Linked DNA regions of Homo sapiens. The protein of the gene in region 3 purifies or fractionates together with the protein of the main gene of each other region. This does not show direct contact. Each region holds a gene or a part of one and is shown on either strand. Other genes may lie near its edges. The genes, in order: NSMCE1, FLYWCH2 and LRRC41.

Region 1 (3,654 bases), on a different chromosome or scaffold from region 3:
GAATCGCTTGAACCTGGGAGGCGGGGGTTGCAGTGAGCCAAGATCACGCCATTGCACTCCAGCCTGAGCAACAGAGTGAGACTTCATCTCAAAAAAAAAAAAAAAAAATCACATGGAACCAAAACAGAGCCTGAATAGCGAAAGCAATCCTAAGCAAAAAGAACAAAGCTGGAGGCATCACGTTACCCGACTTCAAACTACACTACAGGGCTAAACAGCATGGTGCTGGTACAGAAACAGGCACATACACCAATGGAACAGAATAGAGAGCCCAAAATTAAGGCCATACACCTATGACCACCTGATCCTTGACAAAGATGACAAAAAGAAGCAATGGGAAAAAGACTCCCTATTCAATAAATGGTGCTAGTATAAGTGGCTAGCCATATGTGAAGACTGAGGCTGGACCCCTTCCTTACAGCACATACAGGAATCAATTCAAGATGGATTAAAGACTTAAATGTAAGACCTAAAACTATAAAATCCCTGGAAGACAACCTAGGCAATACCATCCTGGACACAGGAACGGGCAAAGATCTCACGACAAAGACACCAAAAGCAATCACAATGAAAGCAGAAATTGACAAATGAGATCTAATTAAACTTAAGAGCTTCTGCACAGCAAAAGAAACTATCAACAGAGTAAACAGACAACCTACAGAATGGGAGAAAATATTTGCAAACTATTTACGAGAGAAAATCAAACAACCCCATTAAAAACTGGGCAAAGGACATGAACCAACATTTTTCAAAAAGAAGACATACATGTGGTCAACAAGCATATGAAAAAAAAGCTCAGTATCACTGATCATTAGAGAAATGCAAATCAAAACCACAATGAGATACCATCTCACATCAGTCAGAATGGCTATTATCAAAATGTCAAAAAATAACAGATGCTGGCAAGGTTGCAGAGAAAAGGGAAACTTATATACTGTTGGAGGGAGTGTAAATTAGTTAAACCACTGTAGAAAGCAGTGTGGCAATTCCTCAAAGAGCTAAAAGCAGAACTACCATTTGACCCAGCAACCCCATTCCTGGGTATATACCAGAGGAACAGAAATATTCTACCATAAAGACACATGCACGGGAATGTTCACTGCAGCCCCATTCACAGAAGCAAAGACATGGAATCAACCTAAATGCCCATCAATGACAGACTGGATAAAGAAAATGTGGTACCTATACACCGTGGAACACTATGCAGCCATAAAGAAGAATGAGATGATGTCTTTTGCAGGAACATGGATGAAACTGGAGACTATTATCCTCTGCAAGCTAACACAGGAATAGAAAACCAAATACCACATGTTCTCACTTATAAGTGGGAGTTAAATGATGAAAACTTATGAACACAAGGAAGGAAACAACAGACACTGGGGTCTATTTGAGGATGGAGGGTGGGAGGAGGAAGAAGAGCAGAAAATATAACTATCGGGTACTGGACTTAATTCTTGGCTGATTAAAAAAGCTGTACAACAAACCCCTATGACGTGAGTTTACCTATCTAATAAACCTTCACGTGTGCTGCCAAACCTAAGTTTTTTTAAAAAAGCATATGATCATCTTAATGATGCAGAATATACAATTGATAAAATTCAACATGTACCTACACCAAAAACAAATTTGGAATCGAAGAAAACATCTTTTATCTACTAAGTGACGTCTACAAAAAACCTGCAGCAAACATCATACTGAAAAATGAAATGTTGGCAGCAATCACTTTAAAAACCAAATTGACCCAATGCAATTGAATCAATGCTATTACAGTCAGCATCCCAAGAGGCTTTGTGTATGTGTGTGTGTGATTTGACAAGATGATTCTAAAAATTTACATAGAAAACACAAAGGCAAAACAGCAAAGACATTCCTGGGAGAAAATAAAGGCAGAAGGACTTGTCCTACCAGCTATAAAGACTTCTCATATTTGCTGGGCGCGATGGCTCATGCCTGTAATCCCAGCACTTTGGGAGGCTGACGTGGGCAGATTGCTTGAGCCCAAGAGTTCAACACCAGCCTGGGCAATGTGGTGAAACCTTGTCTCTACTAAAAACAAAAATTAAAAAAAAAATCGCTGGGCATGATGGTATGCACCTGTAGTCCCAGGTACTCATGATACTGAGGTGGGAGGACTGCTTCAGCTCGGGATGTCGAGGCTACAGTGAGTCATGATTGCACCACTGCATTCCAGCCAGGATGACAGAGTAAGATCCTGTCTAAAAACAAACCAAAACAAAAAAAGCACTTCTTATAAAGCTAGAGTAACGAGTACAGTGTGGTAATGGTACAGAGATAGACAAATAAGACCAATCAATGGAACAGAACAGAGAACTCAGAAACGGAAAGGTATACATATATGGATACTTGATGGCGGATGAAAGCAAACTTTCCAATAAAAGGTGCCAGGAAAACTTGTTATCCATATGTAAAAAAATGAATAAAATTTGATTCTTACCTCATACTATATACAAACATCAATTCTGAAGGGATAAGGTCATAATAAGGAAAAATACTGTAAGACTTTTAGGCAATATAGAGAATATATTTATCACCTAAGGGTAGGGAAGGATTTCTTTAAGAGATATAAAAAGTACAGGTCATAAAGGAATATACTGATAAACTTGACTTTTGTTAAAATTAAGGGCCTCTATTCACCAAAAATACCAGAAAGGTGGGGGTTAGGGGATACAAACTGGAGGGCATTTAAAACAAACATAAGCTACAAAATACAAAAGATTCATATTCAGACTATATAAGGAATTCCTACAAATCAGCATGGGAAACACAACTGTAAAAGAGAAATGGGCAACAGAAATTTTACAAAAAGAGGATGCATAAATGATGAATAAATACAGAAAAAAGATGCTCAATCTCAATGTTATCAGACAAATGATTATGAAAACCACAGTGAAGGAATGTCTTAGCCACCACCAGACAGGCAAAAATTTTAAAAGAATGGCTGAGGCTGAAACTTTCATCTGCTGCTGGGAGAGTATAAATTCTTTTCCTTTTTTTTTTTTTTTTTTTTTTTTGAGACAGGGTCTCACTCTGTTGCCCAGGCTGGAATGAAGTGACACAGTCATAGCTCACTGCAGCCTTGACCTTGTGGGCTCAATCGATCCTCTGACCTCAGAACCCCCTAGCAGCTATGACTACAGGCACACACCACTATGCCCGGCTAATTTCTGTATTTTTTGTAGAGATGGGGTCTCACCTGTTGCCCCAGCTGGTCTCATACTCCTGGACTCAAGCGATCCACCCACCTCAGCCTCCCAAAGTGCTGGGATTACAGGTGTGAGCCACCACTCCAGGCTGAGTATAAATTATTGTAACCATTTCAGATAACAGTTGATATTACTAGCAAATTTGCATATCCCCCGAAATCTACTATTAGGTATATACCTTACAGAAACTTCCACATTTGCCCTAGGAGATATGTTTTTACAGAAGCACCTTGTAATAACAAAAGTCTGGCAACAGTATAAATGCCTACCAACTGAAGAACTACATTAAAACAATATAATCATCCCATAGAATTCAAATCAGCAATGAAGACAAAGTAGAGCTCCTCACATCAACACGCATACTTCTCAGAAAGATAATGTTAAGTGCAACAAGCAAGTCACACAAAATATATTTTAGGATCCTATTACA
Region 2 (3,654 bases), on a different chromosome or scaffold from region 3:
TAGAGGGTTGGGACTTTCAGCCCCTCCTCCAAACTCCAGGAAAGGGAGAGGGCCTGAAGGTTAAGTTGATCACCAATGGCCTATAGTTCAATCAATCATGCCTATGTAATGAAGCCTCCATAAAAACCCAAAAGGAGAGGGTTCCGAGAGCTTCCAGGAACACATGGAGTCCTTGGACGGGTGTGTGGGAGTTGGGAGTGGGGTGGGAATGGAAAGTGAGCCCCTCCCATACGTGCTGCTGCATTTATATGTGTGTGTGTGTGTATATATATAAATAAAATATATGTATATATGTGACATATATAATATATATTATATACGATATATGACACATATACAACATATATGGTATATATATGACATATATAATATATATTATATGACATATATACATTATATATTATATATATTTAAAATATATATAAATTTTAGTTATTTTTTGAGACAGAATCTGGTTCTGTCGCCAGGCTGGAGTGCAGTGGCGTGATCTCGGATCACTGCAACCTCCACCTCCTGGGTTCAAGTGATCCTCCTGCCTCAGCCTCCCACATAGCTGGGACTACAGGCACACGCCACCATGCTCTCCTAATTTTTATATTTTTAGTAGATACGCGGTTTCACCATGTTGGCCAGGATGGTCTCGATCTGTTGACCTCGTGATCCACCCGCCTCAGCCTCCCAAAGTGCTGGGATTACAGGCATGAGCCACTGTGCCCGACTGCATTTATATTTTCATCTGTCTCCTTTATAATAAAATGGTAAATGTAGATAAATTGTGTTTTTTTTTTGAGATGGAGTCTCGCTCTGTCTCCCAGGCTGGAGTGCAGTGGTGTGATCTTGGCTCACTGCAACTTCTGCCTCCTGGGTTGAAGATATTCTCCTGTCTCAGACTCACAAGTAGCTGGGATTACTGGTGTGCACCACCATGCCCGGCTAATTTTTTGTATTTTTAGTGGAGATGGGGTTTCACCATGTTGGCCAAGCTGGTCTCGAACTCCTGACCTCAGGTGATCCACCCGCCTCAGCCTCCCAAAGTGCTGGGATTACAGGCATGAGCTACCACACCTGGCCTGTAAATAGTTTGTTTTTTTGAGATGAAGTCTCGCTCTTCCCACCCAGGCTGGAGTGCAATGTCGCAATCTCAGCTCACTGCAACCTCCACCTCCCAGGTTCAAGCAATTCTCCTGCCTCAGCCTCCCGAGTAGCTGGGATTACAAGCGCCGGCCACTACTCCCAGCTAATCTTTGTATTTTCAGTTGAGACAGGGTTTCACCATGTTGGCAAGGCTGGTCTCGAACTCCCAACCTCAAGTGATCCACCCGCCTCAGCCTCCCAAAGTGCTGGGATTACAGGCATGAGCCACCGTGCCTGGCATTGTTTCCTTGAGTTCTTTGGGCCACTCTAGGAAATGATTTAACCCAAGGAAGGGGTCATAGCAACCTGAGATTGCAGCTGGCTGGTCAGAAGCATGAGCAAGGCGGGAGGATCACTTAAGCCCAGGAGTTCGAGACCAGCCTGGGCAACATAGCGAGACCTCATCACTATAAAAAATAAACAAATTAAATAAAATAAAAGAGAGAGGCCAGGCGCGGTGGCTCACGCCTATAATCCCAGCACTTTGGGAGGCAAGGCGGGTGGATCACGAGGTCAGGAGATCAAGACCATCCTGGCTAACACGGTGAAACCCCATCTCTACTAAAAATACAAAAAAATTAGACGGGCGTGGTGGCGGGCGCCTGTAGTCCCGGCTACTCCGGAGGCTGAGGCAAGAGAATGGCGTGAACCCGGGAGGCGGAGCTTGCAGTGAGCCGATATCGCGCCACCGCACTCCAGCCTGGGCGATAGGGCGAGACTCCATCTCAAAAAAAAATAAATAAAATAAAAATAAAATAGAGAGAGAGAGAACCCTGCCACTCTGGTCCTCCTGCCTGCGCCTGGCACAGAAGTGATCTGCCCAGAGCCACATCCTTGGTCCTTGACCTGGGACCTGAGTCAGGAAAAAAAGTCCTATTATGTCAACCATGACCTCTATTACTGCTACCCAACAACCTCCCTTCCCAGTGTCCCCATCACTCCACTCTGTCCCTGGGGAGATGGAGGCCTGGTCCAGAGCCAATGGCCTTGGGCAGCAGATGCTTGAAGTCAGAAATGCCAGTTACAAAGAAAACTGATCCTCAGAGCTGAGGTCCTGCCTTGGAAGCCAGTGGTCGGGATTATAACCCAGATAACAAAATAAATATCCATGAGTCCAAGCTGATACAAATAACTGAATACATAAATGTTGGAGAAGGGACAAATCTTCCTTAAGAGGAATTCTAAACAGTATGTGCGGACACTTCCCCCTCCAGGAAATGGAGCTTAAGTCCCCTCCCTTGATTGTTGGCTGGGCTTAGTGCATTTCCAAAGATGACAATCTGGGCTGGGCGAGGTGGCTGACGTTTGTAATTCCAGAACTCTGGGGGGTTGAGGTGGGTGGATTACTTTAGGTCAAGAGGTCAAGATCAGCCTGGCTAACATGGCTAAACTCCGTCTCCAGTAAAAATATAAAAATTAGTCAGGCGTGGCTGGGCGCAGTGGCTCATGCCTGTAATCCCAGCACTTTGGGAGGCTGAGGCGGGTGGATCACAAGGTCAGGAGTTCGAGACAACCTGGCCAACACGGTGAAACCTCGTCTCTACTAAAAATACAAAAAAAAAAAAAAATTGGCCGGGCGTGGTGGCAGGCGCCTGTAATCCCAGCTACTCGGGAGGCTGAGGCAGGAGAATCGCTTGAAATCAGAAGGTGGAGATTGCGGTGAGCCAAGATCGCGCCACTGCACTCCAGCCTGGGCAACAAGAGCAGAACGTTGTCTCAAAAAAAAAAAAAAATTAGTCAGGCATGGTGCTGTGCACCTAGTAATCCCAGCTACTCAGGAGGCAGACACAGAAGAACTGCTTTAACCTGGGAGGCAGAGGTTGCAGTGAGCCAAGATCTCACCACTGCACTCCAGCCTGGGCAACAGAGCGAGACTCCAACTCAAAAAAACCAAAAAACAACAAAAACAAAAAAAAAAAAACAAAAACAAAAAAACACACACACGCACACAAAAATGAATGTGGGATCAGATCCCAGATTACACCTCCGAACACAAAAAGTGCATTAGTGAAAACACTGATGAAATCCAAATAAAGTCTATAGGTTAGTTTTCTTTTTTCTTTTTTTGAGAGACAGGGTCTTGGTATATTGCTTGGAGTGCAGTGATACAACCATGGCTCACTGTAACCTCACACTCATGGGCTCAAAGTGATCCTCCCACCTCAGCTTCCCAAGTAGCTGAGACTACAGACACGCACCACTACGCCTGGCTAATTATCGTATTTTTAATAGAGACACGGTTTCACCATGTCGTCCAGACTGGTCTCGAACTCCAGACCTCAAGAGATTTGCTTGCCTTGGCCTCCCAAAGTTCTTGATTACAGGTGTGAGCCACTGTGCCCAGTTCTGTAGTCTTGTACCAACAATAATTTATTATATGAGATGTTAACATGAGGGGAAGCTGGGGGTGGGGAAGATCTATAGGGACTCTGTACTGCCTCTCGGACTTTTCTATAAAGCTAAAATAATTCCAAAATAAAAAGTTTTTTTTAAAGGTAAGTAGCTAGCTGCATTAATATG
Region 3 (3,654 bases):
TACTTTTTTTTGTTTATTGGTTTTATTATTTTTGGAGACAGAGTCTCACTCTCACCCAGGCTGGAGTGCAATGGAGCGATCTAGTCTTACTGCAACCTCTGCCTCTTGGGTTCAAGTGATTCTCATGCCTCAGCCTCCCAAGGAGCTTGGATTACAGGTGTGTGCCACCACGCCCGGCTAATTTTTGTATTTTTATTTTGTTTTGTTGTTGTTGTTGTTGTTTTCTGAGTCAGAGTCTCACTATGTCACCGAGGCTGGAGTGCAGTGGTGCCATCTCGGCTCATTTTAACCTCTGCCTCCTGGGTTCAAGCAATTCTGCCTCAGCCTCCCAAGTAGTAATCCCAGAGTAGCTGGGATTACAGGCATGCACTACCATGCCTGATTTTCAGTAGAGACAGGGTTTCACCATATGCACCAGGCTGGTCTCAACTCCTGACCTCAAGTATCTGCCCACCTCAGCCTCCCAAAGTGCTGGGATTACAGGTGTGAGCCACCACACCTGCCTGTTGGTTTTATTCTTTTTTAAATTATTTTTTTCTATTCTTTGGTGTTGAAACTTTTTTGTTGTTTTTGTTTTAAGACAAGTTCTGGCTCTATTGCCCAGGCTGGAGTGCGATGGTGTGATCTCGGCTCAGTGCAACCTCTGTCTCCTGGGCTCCCTCCCACCTCAGCCTCCTGAGTAGCTGGGACTACAGGTGCACAACACCACAACAGGATAATTTTTCTATTTTTTGTAGAGACGGGGTTTCTCCATGTTGCCCAGGTTGGTCTCAAACTCGTAAGCTCAAGCAATCCACCCACCTTGGCCTCCCAAAGTGCTGGGATTACAGGTGTGAGCTACCGCGCCCAGCCCTTTCTTTCTTTTTTTAAGAGACGTGGTTTTGCACTGTCCCCCAGGCTGGAATGTAGTGGCATGATCACAGCCTCCAACTCCTAGGCTCAAGCTATTCCTCTCACTTCAGCCTCTGGAGTAGCTGGGATTATAGATGTCAGTCACTGTACCCGACTCTTGTGCCTTTACTTTTTACAACTAATTCTTTTTTTTTTTTTTTTTTTTGAGTCGGAGTCTTGCTCTGTTGCCCAGGCTGGAGTGCAGTGATGTGATCTTGGCTCACTGCAACCTCTGCCTCCTGGGTTCAAGCAATTCTCCTGCCTCAGCCTCTTGAGTAGCTGGAACTAAAGGCACGTGCCACCACGCCCAGCTAATTTTTGTATTTTCAGTAGAGACAGGGTTTCACCATGTTGGCCAGGCTGGTCTTGAACTCCTGATTTCGTGATCCACCCGCGTTGGCCTCTCAAAGTGCTGGCATTATAGGTGTGAGCCACTGTGCCCGGCCACAATTTATTGTTTATACAAAAGTCATTAGAGTATACTGTAAAGTGAGGCTCTAACTTAACTTTTTCCAAATAGCTAACCAATTGCTAGAGAATAATTTATTGGGTAAATCTTAATTTATTCATTGCTTTTTCTCCAGAGTATCTATTCTATTATACAGATCTTTTTTTATTTGTTAGTTTTTTGAGACAGGGTCTCTCTCCTGTTGCCCAGGCTGGAGTACAGTGGTGCGATCTTGGCTCACTGCAGCCTCGACTTCCCAGGCTCAGGTGATCCTCCTACCTTGGTCTCCCGAGTATCTGGGACTACAGGCATGTGCCACCATGCCCAGCCAGTTCTTTGTATTTTTAGTAGAGACAAAGTCTTGCCATGTTGCCCAGGCTGGCCTTGAGCTCCTGGGTTCAAGTGATCCACCTGCCTCAGCCTCCCAAAGTGCTAAGATTACAGGTGTGAGCCACCGTGCCTGACCTTACAGATCTCTTTATATACCCCAGTACTACACAGTTTGAAATACTATTGCTTTATAAGCATTCTATATTTATCTTGTTCACCATTGTATCCCTGGAACCTAGCATAATGCATGGAACTGAGCAGGCACTGAATAACTGTTTGTGACTTATGAGCTGAAGGCTATTGTCATGCAAAAGTGGGAAGCGGAAAGACACCCTCTGGAATGGACATGCTCCAAGTTAGGACCTCTGCCTAACTGACTGTTGGGCCACCAAGCCTGGGGCCTCTAAATGCTCTGAAATGCTTTGAGCCAAGAAGACAGAAAGCTTTCTCCAAGAGAAAAATATAATCTTTATCACTTGCTGGTCAACTCTAGTGCTTGTGAAATACTGGAACAAAGTGAATCTGATGTTTCCTTAAAGATAGCAAAAAGCAGTTACTGTTTTCTAATATTCTTGAGTCTGCTTCTCTTCCTCATAAGGTCTGTTGTCCTCATTCTGAACGCCAAGGGTTGCAGTCCAGATTTGGAAGTGAATAAGCCGAAGGAGATGGGGTTCAATGTTACTGAACCCAGTGCATCCCCAGAAATTAAATCTCCAATTCCTGACATTAGCTTTTTTTCCACCTGTTATTTGGCCTCATTCACCATAGAAGGCCCAGTTCAAATACTACTTCCTAGGAAAGACTTTCTTATTCTCTTCTCTCTCAACCTTCTTACTATCCTCTATTACACCACTTATCCTATCATATGTGATCTATTTGTAGATTTCCCTATTAAACTGGTAGGTCCTTGCCGGGCGAGGTGGCTCACGCCTGTAATCCCAGCACTTTTGGAGGCCGAGGTGGGTGGATCAACTGAGGTCAGGAGTTCGAGACCAGCCTGACCAACATGGAGAAACCCTGTCTCTATTAAAAATACAAAAAAATTAGCTGGGTGTGGTGGCGCATGCCTGTAATCCCAGCTACTTGGGAGGCTGAGGCAGGAGAATTGCTTGAACCCGGGAGGCAGAGGTTGCAGTGAGCCAAGATTGCGCCATTGCACTCCGGCGTGGACAACAAGGGCAAAACTCCGTCTCAAACAAAACAAAACAAAACAAAACAAAACAAAACTGTTAGGTCTTTAAGATTAGAGGCTGCATCTATTCTTCCAATATCTAGTGTAAGATCTGGTACCTGGTTAAGTTTCAGTAAATGTTTATTGAATTAAATCTACCCCATCACCTAGTTATGGGGCAGCAAAAGAAACTGCTTAAATGAGAGCTCCAGTGATTTATATCTGTATCAGTGAATAATAGAATCTCAGGTCTAAAAGGAGCTCTAAAAGTCATCTTGTGCAACCCCTTTTACAATGCTGAATCCCCTGCAGAACACCCTAGTGTCAAGGAGTTACACAGACTCCATTTGAACTTAGTGATGGGAAGTTTATTACCTCTAGAATTAGCTTGTTTCATAAGCTCAGGGTTTAAGCTTTACGTAAACTTCAGGTTAGCAAAAATGTATCTTCCATTAGCTTCCATCCAGAACAAGTCTATTAATCCCTCCTTCATGTGACAGCCATTCATATATTTCAAGATGGGTCATGTTTCCCAAGTCTTCTCTTTTTCAGGAAAAACATCTCCAGTTGTCCCAATGTGACTCACATAATGTGGCTTTGACTTTCTCCAATCTCCACGGGTAGCCTGACCATTGCAGAGCTAGGCAGGACTGTTGTCCACCTTGTCCTTCAGCCTATACTATATTTACATTAGTTCACACAGCTCAAGGTATAGTCGTTATAAGTGGCTTCAACACATTGTTGACTAAACTCCCTTAATCTTTTTTATACAAGCTGTTACTAATCATACTCCTTTATCCCTCATCCCGATACC

The links.
Region 1: the proteins of LRRC41 (region 3) and NSMCE1 purify together in Homo sapiens (affinity purification with mass spectrometry; one large-scale study listed by BioGRID and IntAct). This does not show direct contact.
Region 2: the proteins of LRRC41 (region 3) and FLYWCH2 purify together in Homo sapiens (affinity purification with mass spectrometry; one large-scale study listed by BioGRID and IntAct). This does not show direct contact.

What each region holds. Positions count from the first base shown.
Region 1 is NC_000016.10:27,262,154-27,265,807, forward strand, and holds part of NSMCE1 (non-structural maintenance of chromosomes element 1 homolog), read right to left. Parts: intron 1-3,654. UniProt on the Homo sapiens protein: RING-type zinc finger-containing E3 ubiquitin ligase that assembles with melanoma antigen protein (MAGE) to catalyze the direct transfer of ubiquitin from E2 ubiquitin-conjugating enzyme to a specific substrate.
Region 2 is NC_000016.10:2,889,630-2,893,283, reverse strand, and holds part of FLYWCH2 (FLYWCH family member 2), read right to left. Parts: intron 1-3,654.
Region 3 is NC_000001.11:46,293,556-46,297,209, forward strand, and holds part of LRRC41 (leucine-rich repeat-containing protein 41), read right to left. Parts: intron 1-3,654. UniProt on the Homo sapiens protein: Probable substrate recognition component of an ECS (Elongin BC-CUL2/5-SOCS-box protein) E3 ubiquitin ligase complex which mediates the ubiquitination and subsequent proteasomal degradation of target proteins.